Regions from separate parts of the Homo sapiens genome. Here region 1 is linked to region 2. A link means that fine-mapping ties the variant in region 2 to the expression of a gene that starts in the linked region. Tissue or cell type: whole blood. Region 2 holds a variant in brackets; the other region holds the start of a gene. All regions are shown on one strand. Distances are from middle to middle.

Region 1 (6,378 bases), 30 kb after region 2:
GGGGCGGGTGGATCACCTGTGGGTAGGAGTTTGAGACCAGCCTGGCTAACACGGTGAAACTCCATCTCTACTAAAAATAAAAAAATTAGCTGGGCGAGGTGGTGGGCACCTGTAATCCCAGCTACTCTGGAGGCTGGGGCGGGAGAATCGCTTGAACCCGGGAGGCAGAGGTTGCAGTGAACTGAGATTGTGCCACTGCACTCTAGAATGGGTGACAAGAGCGAAACTACATCTCCAAAAAAAAAAAAAATGTAGACAATTTAACCCCTTTTTTTGCCTCCTCACATTCGGTACAGGGAAATGAGAAGCACATGGAAACTGAGACCAACACTACAGCACAAGCTCAGTAAGTAACTAGATCAGCTCAATCACCCACATTACTAGATTTTTTCTCTCTTGTGTGTATGTGTTGTTGCATTCTTTGTTTTGCTTTTCACTGATGATATACTATAATTGAATTAATATGTTAATGTAGCAGCTAACAGCATCCTTCCTTTTCTTTTTTTTTTTTTTTTTTGTTTTTTTGAGACACAGTCTGGCTCTGTTGCCCAGGCTGGAGTGCAGTGGCGCGATCTTGACTCACTGCAAGCTCTGCCTCCCGGGTTCACGCCATCCTCCTGCCTCAGCCTCCTGAGTAGCTGGGACTACAGGCGCACGCTGCCACGCCTGGCTAATTTTTTGTATTTTTAGTAGAGACGGGGTTTCACCGTGTTGGCCAGGATGGTCTCGATCTCCTGACCTTGTGATCTGCCCGCCTCGGCCTCCCAAAGTGCTGGGATTACAGGTGTGAGCCACCGCGCCCGGCCCTTCCTTTCCTTCAGTTCCCTACTCCACTCCTTACCTTACTGATTCCACTTCCCATATTCTATTCAAATGATCTGAAATGTTACATGATTTGCAAATGTTTTTCTAAGCATTACAATAAAATGAATTTTAGATGTAGATTTTCCCATTAATTGGTTCTTTCTACTCACCTTTTTCAGATCCTCATTACTATCAAATCATAATGGAAAAAGAATGCTTAAGGATGAAGAACAAACAATATGTAAGGGAGAGGGTCTATAAATTTCCCTCAAATTAGGATGAACATGACAAGCTCTTAGGGTAAAAATGTGGCACAGAAAACAAATAAATGTGTTAATTTGTATTTAAAAAACGTCTTCCCTGGCATTAAGATTTTTTTTCAAGATTAAATGATTTATTTTCAAATCTCTTACATTTGCAGGCAAAAACTCTTAAGTTTGGATATGTAGTAACAATTATCATCAGAGTTTCAAAAATCTAATCTCAACTTCAATTACTATAATTGCTGACAAAATGGCTTTGACTTAAAATTACAGCCATGTTTTGATTAGCCATAAACCAGTGGTCCCTTCAAACTTGTTTTCAGTTCTGGGGCTACCATGAGTACATTATTATCTGGGAATGACAATTAATCCCTATAATCTGTACGGGAGGAAGGGCTAATCTTGGTCACCGCTATATTAACTCTAAGTTAACCAGTGAAGTATTTTACCTTAGAAAAATACTTAACCCAGCCTGACCAACATGGTGAAACCCCGCCTCTACTAAAAATACAAAAATTAGCCAGGTGTGGTGGTGCGCGCCTGTAATCCCAGCTAGTCAGGAGGCTGCGGCAGGAGAACTGCTTGAACCCGGGAGGCGGAGGTTGCAGTGAACCAAGATCACGCCATTGCACTACAGCCTGGGCGTCAGAGTGAGAATGTATCTCAAAAAAAAAAAGAGAAAGAAAAAGGAAAAATACTTTCCATATATGGAACACTTAATTACAAACATCATTTGCCTTTCCCCAATCTTAGCACCCTTACTTTTGAGTGACTCTATTCTATGTATTTAGTAATCGTTTAACTAATGCTTTCAAGCCTTTTCATAAGCCACGGACCCTACGGGACACTCTCTTCTTTCCCACCCAACACCCACTATATTTAAACCTTAATAAAACTCATCCTTAAAAATTCTTCCGAATTAACTCATCCTAATTCTCTGCATTCCATTTATATTTAACACTAAATCAATTAGCATTCTACTAGACCTTCCTTTCAACTTTTAACCACTTGCATCCACCTCCTACCCCCTTCAAATCTCTCCATCCAGTCTTTCCAATCTTTGTTCTAATATGTGTGTGTATGTACGTATAGCATTAGTACTATAATTTAAAAAACTCCAGGAAATTCTGAAAAATAGAAAATGGAAGGTTAATACAGCCAAAAAAAAAAAAATCATCACAAAAATGCTTCAAGGAAAAACAGTAACAACTCAATCAACTGACAACTGAATCTGACAATACTTTGGAAAAGTACTACTTTAGGTTCTCAAGGACGCAAAGAGCCCTCAACAACTCAATTCAATCCCTGAATTATTGTGAGGCTTTAACAAAATCCCTAGAAAACCTCCAGGCATTACCACCAGCCTTTTAAAAATTACCTTCCAATATTACTAGCAGTGATATTTTTACTAACACTGAATTCCAAACAAGTTTTCCTCCCAAGCAGACTGATGAATAAACAATCTTCCTATGCAGAAACCAAATTAAAACCACTTAAAACCATGGAAGGGATACAGTGATTTAACCCTTCTGTAAGGACTGGAGTGGTGGGCAAACAGGTGACAAATGGAAGGGATGCAGAAAGTGGAAACAGAAATCAGTGAGACTCCTCCCCTTCTCTGAGGGCTAAGGTTCAGCTTGCAGCTCCGGAGGCAAAACCTCCACGGACCCTCTCCCTCAGCGACAAGCCGAATACGAAAGCTTCCAGAAAACCACAGGTCCTCCTCCCCGGCCTCGCACTCACGCCCTCACTCGCCTGGCCAACGCCCATTGATAGCAGACAGTCCCTAGTCCGCCCGACTTCTCCCGAGAAAAGGGTCAACAGAGGACGCCTTCCCCGAGGCCTCCTCCGGAACTCAGCCAGCAGAGACTCCGCAAAAATGGAGGGACCCAAGAAGCTTGAAGAAAAGTGTGAAAATTCTATTACCTGGTCGGAACCCTGGAAACGGAAAGGGCAGCTACAGCCACTGCCCTTCTCCGCCACAACGTCTGCCTCAGTACCACTGACATTGACACCGCCGCCATCTTGCTGCAGGCAAACGCCAGGATGAAAGGACGGATCACCGCAAGGGACTAACTTCCTTCGTTCTCAAGCCAGTGCAATCGCAATGTTGCGAAATTCTTTGGGATTTTATTTTCTTTTTAATACTGGGGCTTAAAAAAAGAGGGGAAACGCTTAGTTTAAATAAGTAAGAAGAAAAATGTGCGGGAAGAAATGCAGAAGTGCATTAACTGTAAATATTACCACCATAAAGTGTAATCTTTACTGCTTGTTAGGACTGGTGTTTTACAATGATAACGAAAAGACCAAAATATACTTGCATATTTAAACACCTGCAACTCGTAATTTATTGAAGAAATTAGGATATTTGGGGCTGAACCCACTGGAAAAGCTGGAGAGCTCTTTGGGTCCTTGAGAACCTGCAGTAGTACTTTTCCAAAGTATTGCCAGATTCACTTTGCAAGCCCTCAGGACAGGGCTGTATTCAGTTTGATATTCTGTAGTAGTAATGTTCGTATTTTCCAAACGAAAAATCTGGATACGTGATCTGGCAAAGGATTATTTTTTGACATGTAGATTTATATGAAGAATCAATAGAACATAATATTTGATGTCACTGTTTCCCCAGTAAATCCTGAATGTGTGTGTGTTCATAATCCATAGACATGAAGAATGATATTAATGCTCCATGCATATAAAACAAAAATTATCTTCCAATACAAGTGTTGGAAACATGTTTGTATTGTGGACTTCCGACCTTAAAGAATAATGACTAACTGAATTATATAAAATAAAAAGCAGGTTAGTTTTGGGTTTTGTTTTTTAAGAAATTTGTTTAAAGAGTTAGTACTTTCCTGCTTTTAAAATTAAGCACATGAAAACATAACCTTCATTAAATAAATAGGAACAATAGGAGGATGGGGAATGACATAGTTTGGCATTATGGACCGTTAAAGGAAAACCCAGTACATAAGGGAAAGGGAGAAAGAAAGAGAAAAAGTCATACTCAGGGAAAGAAATGCACAAGATGAAGGAAGGCAAGGGAGAGATGCCTCAGAGAAAATTTTCTTTCAAACTTTTCATTTTGAAATAGTTATAGATTCACATGAAGTTGCAAAGATAGTACAGATGTCTTGTGTACCTGTTTCCCCCAGTGATTACATCTCGTATAACTCTAGTACAGTATCAAAGCCAGGAAACTGGCATTGATATAAAGTATTTGTGTAGTCCTATGTCATTCTACTACATATTTTGTGTAACCACCACCATGATCAAGATACAGAACTATTCCACCCTCACAAAGATCTCCCTAGTGCTAACCTTTTTGGTAACACCTGCCCTCCTAACCCTAGTGATCTCTGTTTCTGTTTTTATAATTTTGACATTTTGAGATGTTATATGAATGGACTCATGCAGTACATGACCTTCTAAGATTGGCTTCTTTCACTTGGCATAATGCACTTGAGACCCATCCAAGTTGTTGTGTTTATCAATAGTTCATTCCTTTTTTATTGCTGAGTAATATTCCATGACATGGATGTACCACAATTTGTTTAACCATTCACCTATTGCAGAACATTTTGATTGTTTCCCATTTGGGGCCATTACAAATAAAACTGCTGCAAACAATTGAATACAGGTTTTTATGTGGACAAAAATCTTCATTTCTCTGAGATAAATGCCCAGGAGTGCAATTGCCAGGTCATGTGATACATGTATGTGTCATTTTTTAAAGAAATTAAAAACTGTTTTCCAGAGTAACTGTAACATTTTACATTTCCTCCAGCAATGTATGAGAGATCCAGTTTCTCCATATCCTCACCAGCATTTTCTATTATTGCTATTTTTGTTTTAGCTGAGCTAAAGTAAATAATAAATGTGCAGTAATACCTCATCACAGTTTTACATTTATTCCCCTGGTGGCTAATAATGTTGAATATCTTTTCATGTTTTTATCTGCCATCTGTATATTCCATTCAGTTAAATGTCCTTATGTCTTTTGCCCATTTTCTAATTAGCATTATTTGGTTTTTTACCTGTACATTTTGAGAGTTCTTCATATATTAGATGTGTCTTTTGTCAGATGCATGATTCACAAATATTTTCTTCAATCTGTAGTTTGTATTTTCATTCTCTTGACAAGATCTGCCACAGAACAAATATTTTTAATTTTGATGAAGTCCAGTTTATTCATTTTTTAAATTTATGGATTGTGCTTTTGCTGTCATGTCTGAGAACTATTCTCTAATCCTGTATCCTAAAGATTTTATCTTGTTTTCTTTCAAAGGTTGTTTTAGTTTTGCCTTTTACATTTAAGTCTATGTAATTTTTGTGAGTTAAGTTTTCCATTAATAGGTGTGAGGTTTAGGTTCAGGTTTTTGCTTGTGGCTATCCAATTGCTCTAGCACTACTTATTGAAAAGTTTATCCTTCTTCCATGGAGTCCCTTTTGCACCTTTGTCAAAATATCAGTTGGCCATACTTGTGTGTGGCTATTTCTGGGTTCTCTATTTCAGAGAGAAATTTTAAGCCCAAGGGTGGCTTTGGTGTCTGGGTGAATTTTAATAAAGATTTTCTATGTGAAGGAATAATGGGATGTGTCCCAGTGTTCATAAGAGCAACTTCCTATAGCCCTGTTACTGGCCCTACCAACCAAAGCTCAACCTCTCCACCTAACACCTATTCTAGTCCCCAACTTCCATGGATCTGAATTCCCCAGGAAAGCCCCCGGTCTCTAGTCTCTTTGTCTTTTGTACAGCCCATAATCCAACATCAGCATTGCCAGAACCCTAGTGGAATCTTTGATTCCCTTCACTTTCTGCTGGATTCCCTCAGCTGCCCATTCCTGAGGTCCTTTCTGACCTTATATACAGGATATAGGTGTTAGAATGGAACAGAAATAACTTGGTATGTTCATTTATTTATACTATTTCACCTATACCACAGGCTGTACCATTAAGCTTAATAGAATGTCTAGGTCCAAGTGCCATTTTGTTATTTCAATGTGCTGCCCCAGAAGTTGTTAACTACTAGAGTCCACTTCTTTGCCTCTTCTCTAGTCATCCTCCTTGCCCTTCAGATCACAGCTGTGAGTCACATCCTTCAGAGTCACTCCCCATGGTAGAAACTACGTCTTACAGGCATTTTTCACCTCCGCCATCCTTGCTGACAGAGCCTGACTCCTATGATAGAGACTAAAGTTGCTGTATATTGGCTTTCCCATTAGCTCCTGCAGCTAGCACATGAACATGTCCAAAGCCAACAGGATCTGAAATCCCTTTTGAGAAAAAAGACTTCTGAAAAAAAAAAAA
Region 2 (7,336 bases):
CAATGGAATTAAACTAGAAATCAGTAACAGAAAACTAGAAAATCTCCAATTACTTGGAGATCAAACAATACACTTCTAAATAACTCATGGGTCAAAAAAGTCTCAAGAAAAATTTTAAAATATTTTGAACTAAATGAAAATGAAAATACAATGTTCAAAATTTGTGGGATGCACCAAAAACAGTGCTTAGAGAAAAACTTATAGCTCTGAATGCATATATTAGAAAAGAAGAAAGGTCTAACTAAATTCAATAATCTAAGCTTCCACCACAGGAAACTAGAAAAAAAAAAAGGGCAACATAAACCTAAGGCAAGAAGAAGATAAAAAAAATTATAGTAAACATCAATGAAATTGTAAATAGGAAATTGGTAAAGAAAAATAAACAAAACCAAAAGCTGTTCTTTGAAAAGAGCATTAAAACTGATAAACCTTTAGTCAGGTTAACAAAAAAGAGAAACAGACAGATGAGAGAGAGAGAGAGAGAGAGACAAAGCCCTAATATATAAAATGAAACAGGTATCATCACTCCTGATCCCACGGACATTAAAAAAACAGGGAAATATTATGAACAACTCTAAGCTCACAAATTTGATAACTTAAATGAAATGGGCTAATTATTTGAAAAACAGGAATTACTAAAACTCTCACAAGGAGCAATAATCGGGACAGGCCTATATCTATTAAAGATAATGAATCAATAATAACCTTCCAAAAAAAGAAACCATAACGTCCAGATGTTTCCTGGTGAATTCTACCAAATATTTAAGGAAGAAATGACACTAAATCTCTACAATCTCTTCTAGGAAATAGAAGCATGTAGTACCTCATTCTATGGGACCAGCATTACCCAAACATCAAAACTAGATAAAGGCATTACAGGAAAGGAAAACTATAGACTAATTCTCTTATAAATATAGATGCAAAAATTCTTAACAGATATTAGCACTAAATTCAACAATGCATGAAAAGATTTATATACCATGACCAAGCAGGATTTATTCCAGGCATGATTCTAAAATTCATATGGAAAGACAAAAGACTCAAAATAGCCAATGCAATACTGAAGAATGAAGTCAGAAAACTGTTATTACCCGACTTTAAGACTTACTACACACTGCACAGCTATAGTAATAAGGACTGTGGTATTAGCTATAAAATAAATAGATGAATGGAACAGAAATAGACTATTCAAATATAGTCAACTGATCTCTCAGAAAGAAACAAGGGCAATCCAATAATGACAGTCTCTTCAATAAATGATGCTGGTACAACCAGACATCCACATGCAAAAACTTAATCTACACAGTGACATTACACCTTTCACAGAAATTAACTGAAAATGGCTCATGAACCTAAATGTAGGAAGCAAAACAATCAAATTTCTCAAAGATAATGTAAGAGAAAATCTAGGTGACCTTGGGTTTGGTACTGAGTTTTCAGATACAATGCCAAAAAAATGATCCATGAAAAATAAATAAGTTGGACTTCATTGAAATTAACAGCTTTAGCTCTGTGAAAGATACTATTAATATTAAAAGAATGAAAAGACAAGCCACATGCTAGGAGAAAATATCTGCAAACTATATATCTGATTAAGAAACTTTATCTACAATAAACAAAGAACTCTTAAAACTCAACAATGCCGGGCGCAGCGGCTCACACCTGTAATCCCAGCACTTTGGGAGGCCGAGGCGGGCGGATCACTTGAGGTCAGGAGGTCAAGACCAGCCTGGCCAACATGGTGAAATCTGCCACACCCCCTCATCTCTACTAAAAATACAAAAAATTCGCCAGGCATGGTGGCACGTGCCTGTAATTCCAGCTACTCAAGAGGCTGTGGCAGGTGAATCACCTGAACCTGGGAGGCAGAGGTTACAGTGAGCCAAGATTGCGCCACACTGCACTCCAGCCTGGGCAACAGAGCGAGATCCCGTCTCAAAACAACAACAACAACAAAACTCATCAATAAGAAAACAAACAACCCAACTGAAAAGTGGGCAAAAGATCTAAACAGACACCTCACCAAAGAAGATATACAGATGATAAATAAGTATATGAAAAAGTGCTCAATATCATATGTCATTAGGAAATTATAAATTAAAATGACAGTGCTACACACCTATTAGAATGGCTAAAATCCAAAATACCACACCAAATTTGAGAAAGGATGAAGAGAACAGAAGTCTCATTCATCGCTGGTGGGAATGCGAAATGGTACAGCCAATTTGGAAGACAGTCTGGCAGTTTTCTACAAAGCTAAAACATAGTTTTAACATAGGATCAGCAACTGTGCTCCTAGGTATTTACCCAAATGAGCTGAAATCATATGTCCACACAAAAACATGCAAAAGAGTGCTAGGGAAATGAAAAAGAAAACCATAAGATACCACTTCATATTTATTACGATAGTTATTATCACCCCCCCCCCCCAAAAAAAACAAACAAAAAGTAGCAAGTACTGGCAAGGATGTGAAGAAAATGGAACACTTGCTCACTGCTGGTGGGAATGTAAAATGACACAGCCATTACAGAAAACAGTAGTGTGATTCCTCAAAATATTTAAAATAAAATTACCATATAATCCAGCAGCTTCACTTTGGGATTTATATTCAGACAAACTAAAGCAGGGACTAGAACAGATATCTGTACACTCATGATTATAGCAGCATTATTCACAGCAGCCAAAAGACAGAAGCAACCCTACTGTCCACTGGCAGATGAATGTGTAAACAAAATGTGGTATATACATACAATTGAATATTATTTTGCCTTAAATGGAAGCAGATTATGATATATGCTACACCATGGAAGAACCATGAAGACATTGTGATAAGTGAAATAAGCCAATCACAAAAGAATAGTATATGATTCTATTTATATGGGGTATCTAAAGTAGTCAAACTCACAGAAACAGAAAGTAAAATGGTAGTTGCCAGGGGCTTATGAGAGAGAAGAATAGAGAATTACTGTGTAATGGGTACAGACTTCAGTTTTAGAAGATGAAAAAGTTCTGGAGATATATGATGGTAATGGTTGCACAACAATGTGAATGTACTTAATGCCAATGAAATATACTTAAAAATAGTTAAAATGGTAAATTTCATAGTATGTATAAACCACGACAATATTTTAAAAAGAGCATGCCTTGTGAAGAAACAGATAATCCCTGGTTTACAACACCAATAAAGACACATATGCAAAAGTTTGTCAAAGATGAAGAAGATTTATAACTGCCTAGAGACAGTCTCTTCACATATGTACATAAAAATAGTATGTTTGTATCTATTAATCACTCATCTCCTTGGAAAATTTCAGAAGTCCAGAATTAAGCTGTTGAACTTCAATATGATTATTCATTTGTACTGCCTCATGGAACAAATTTTCCCAAATTATATACTTTTTAAAAACTACTAGTGCTTGCCTATGTAACACAAAATATGAGATAGTTTTTGTTATATGTCCTACCAATTATTAACCTCTTGATTTTTTAGACTTTGCATAGCATCATTATCCAACATGTTCTACATAAAAATAGTTGATAACTGTGAATCTTTATTAATAGATTTATGTTATAAGCAAGCACATAAGAGCAAATCTTAAATATGCTTATGAAAATGTAACAGACAAAACACAAGGAAAAGGATGTCCAATTAACCAGTTTACTCCTCTACTGGACATTTCTGGCTAAACTGCCTAGTTCACCTTTCAGCAACAAGACCCTTAATTCAATCAAAACAGGATTACTTCAAAGCTATTTGGCATTTTTT[T/A]AAAAAAATCATTCTACCAATCAATCATGCGTAATTCTCTATATTCCTCAAAAGGCTTGTTAGTCATTCCAGCTGGGCACCCATATTCCAGTTCTTCTCTGTATTAGTCAGGGTTCTCTAGAGGGACACAACTAACAAGGGAGTTTATTAAGTATTAACTCACACCATCACAAGGTCCCACAATAAGCCATCTGCAAGTTGAGGAGCAAGGAAAGCCAACCCGAGTCCCAAAAATGAAGAACTTGGAGTCTGATGTTCAAGGGCAGGAAGCATCCACCACGGGAGAAAGATGTATGGCTGGGAGGCTAGGCCAGTCTAGTCTTTCCATGTTTTTCAGCCTGCTTTACAGTCTAGCCACACTGGCAGCTGATTAGATGGTGCCCACCCAGATTACGGGTGGGTCTGCCTTTCCCAGCCCACTGACTCAAATGTTAATCTCCTTTGGCAACACCCTCACAGACACACCCAGGATCAATACTTTGCATCCTTCAATCCAATCAAGGTGACACTCAGTATTAATCATATTCTCCTTCTAATCGTATTTTGAGACTACACTCCCATTGCCACTTCTTGGTTAGGTGTAGGAACGTAACTTACCTAAATTAGTGAAGTATAAGGGGAAATGACATTATCCAGCAGTAGCTTTAGAAGTCAATGCCTAACTGCCTCTTTTCCTACATCCCAGTAACCAACAGTAGTTAGTCTGAGTTCCCAAGTGAGGATACACGGAGTAGCATTCCTGACTGTCCCACAAGGGAAATGCAACATGAACAAGAAATAAATCTCTGTTATTTTAAGCTACAGGTATTTTGGGGTTTAGGATCCTGACTGACACAGTTTGATAAGCAATTCTCTATTCAAGTGCTTCTCTAGGGACTACCATACGAGAATTTAAATTGTATGATGTCTGTTTTACATTGACTGAGGTTGGGAGTGTTACAGCTTGAGAGTTTACTATTTTCAAATGAATCAAGATGTTGCTCTTAAAAACCTACGTTTTGGTCTTTAAGGGCAGAATAATTTATTTTCTTACGCTTTTGAAGGTCAGAAGGGGTCAAAAAGCCATTAGATGATCTGCTTCACAACTGCTCTAATGCTACTGTGTCATCTTGGACAGATCACCTCCTAATTTTTTTTTTTAAGATGGCTATGCATTTTCTCTTCACTTTCAAGTGTTCCAACTTGTCACTTTTTGCTTCGGTTTAGGAATCTTTTGGTCTAAAACTTCTCTGTATCAGCCCTAAAACCACTGAGATTACATTTGTATAAAAAATATATTAAAAATAAAATAAAAAGTGAATTCAAAAATAAAATATGGTGACAATATAAGACATGATATTTCATTGTTTGGCAATATTACATCAAAGGGAAAGCTAGTTGGTACAAGTTGCATACTTCAATTCAAAAATAAAGTGCCTAAGAGTGGTGTATTTGCAAATGGACTGACATATTGTTTTTTAAAAGGCTGATGATCACATCATTAAGAATAATGAATACATGCAGAAGAAAACAAAAATTACCAGCATTCATATATTTTTCACTTCATGAAACAAACTGGATAACAGTCATGTAGTAACTTCACAGTCAGTCAGACTCGTGAAAATTCCAGATCTGCCACTTAAGAGCAATATGATCTTGAACAAATTATTTCACAACTCTGCACTTCAATTTCCTCATCTGCAAAAATAAGGATAATAATACCGCAAATAATTACTGGTAGAATTAAATAACTAGTTAAGTAATTGGCATGAAGGAGCTGGTGTGCGGAGAAACAAATGTTCACTTCTTTCCCTCTAGTCACAAGCAGGACCAATTCATAGGAAGGCAAGAGAGGAAAGAGAACCCCACTGAAGGCTCAGATGATCGTTAACATTCTTGAGCTGAGCAGTAAAGAATTTTTAAATTAGGGTACGTACACTGTTTTTTAGACATAATGCTACTGCACACTTAACAGTCTACAGTGTGGTGGAAAAATAACTTTTATCACTGGGAAACCAAAAAATTTGTGTGACTCGCTTTACCATGGTATTTGCACAATCTAGTGGTGGTCTGGAACCAAACCTGCAGTATCTCCAAAGCATGCCTGTACAACAATCACTTATTAATAATTGGCCTCTCTGCCTCTAGTCTTCTCTTCCTCAAAGGCACCTTCAACCTAAACAAGTAATTATTATACCCAATCATGTGACTCTTTTGGTTGAAATCCTTCATTGACTGAGTGGTAATTTACCTTAAAAAAGTGAAGTATTGCCAGGCATGGTGTCACACCTGTAATCCCAGTTCTTTGGGAGACTGAGGCCGGTGGATCCCTTGAGCCCAAGAGTTCAAGACCAGCCTGGGCAACATGGTGAAATCCCGTCTCTACCAAAAAACACAAAAATTAGCTGGGCATGGTGGCACATGCCTGTGGTTCCAGCTACTTGGGAGGTTGAGGTGTGGAGTATCACATGAGACCAGAGGGCGGAGGATGCAGTGAGCCATGATAGCACCACATGCTCCAGCCTGTGAGACAGAGCGAGACGCTGTCTCAAAAAAAAAAAAAAAGTATTTAGGGATGGAATACCATGATATTTATAATTGAGTTTCAGATGGCTTAGATCAATATATGTGTTTGTCTGTTGCTAATCTATACATACTCAAATATATGCCTTTTGCTCATTTATATACATATATATGCAAAATAAGCAAAACCAGCAAAATACTAACCACTAACCATGTTAAATCTAGGTGGTAGGTTTATAGATTCACAGCACTCCACTTTTCTGCATGTGTGAAAATTTTAATGGAAAGTTAAAAAATTGAAAGCAACATGAAAATTACAATTAGTATGCCTCCTCTGTGGAAAAATGGGCAAGAATAATATATTTTCTTAAATATGCATAAACGGACTCCAAGCATAAGAAACTAATAATGATTTTTTGGGAGTGGGGTAAGCAGTGGTAAATGAGCAGATGGGATAGAGAAGGAGACTCTTAGAATTTATTTTATATATATATAACTCGGCCGGGTGCAATGGTTCACGCCTGTAATCCCAGCACTTTGAGACGCCGAGGCAGGCAGATCACTTGAGGTAAGAAGTTCGAAACCAGCCTGGCCAACATGGTGAAACCCCGTCTCCACTAAAACAAAAAAAATTAGCCAGGCATGGCGGCACATGCCTGTAATCCCAGCTACTCGGGAGGCTGAAGCAGAAGAATCATTTGAACCCGGGAAGTGGAAGTTGCAGTGAGCCGATATTGTGCCAATGCACTCCTGCCTCAGTGACAAGAGTACAACTCCATCTCAAAAAAAAGGAAGAAACAGGCTGGGCACGGTGGCTCACGCCTGTAATTCCAGCACTTTAGGAGGCCAAGGCAGGCGGATCACAAGGTCAGGAGATCAAGACCATCCTGGCTAACACGGTGAAACCCCGTCTCTACTAAAAAATACAAAAAATTAGCCAGGCATGGTGGTGGACGCAAGTAGTCCCAGCTACTCAAGAGGCTGAGACAGGAGAATGGCATGAACCTGGGAGGCGGAGCTTGCAGTGAGCCAAGATTGCGCCACTGCACTCCAGCCTGGGCGACAGA

What was found. PIP is the estimated chance that this variant, and not a neighbour inherited with it, causes the effect.
Region 1: NDUFS4 starts here. The variant in region 2 is fine-mapped to the expression of NDUFS4 in whole blood (TOPMed, PIP above 0.99).

The regions. Positions count from the first base shown.
Region 1 is chr5:53,557,376-53,563,753 of GRCh38, reverse strand. It overlaps NDUFS4 (NADH:ubiquinone oxidoreductase subunit S4), which reads right to left and starts at 3,115. Exons shown (of 5, transcript NM_002495.4): 1 at 2,994-3,115. The coding sequence starts at 3,091. RefSeq lists an enhancer at 2,714-3,213.
Region 2 is chr5:53,586,556-53,593,891 of GRCh38, reverse strand. The region is part of intron 1 of NDUFS4 (NADH:ubiquinone oxidoreductase subunit S4); the gene reads right to left. Among named protein-coding and RNA genes, the nearest start is that of NDUFS4, 30 kb to the right of the region's middle. The variant T/A (reference allele first, on the strand shown) is at 3,768.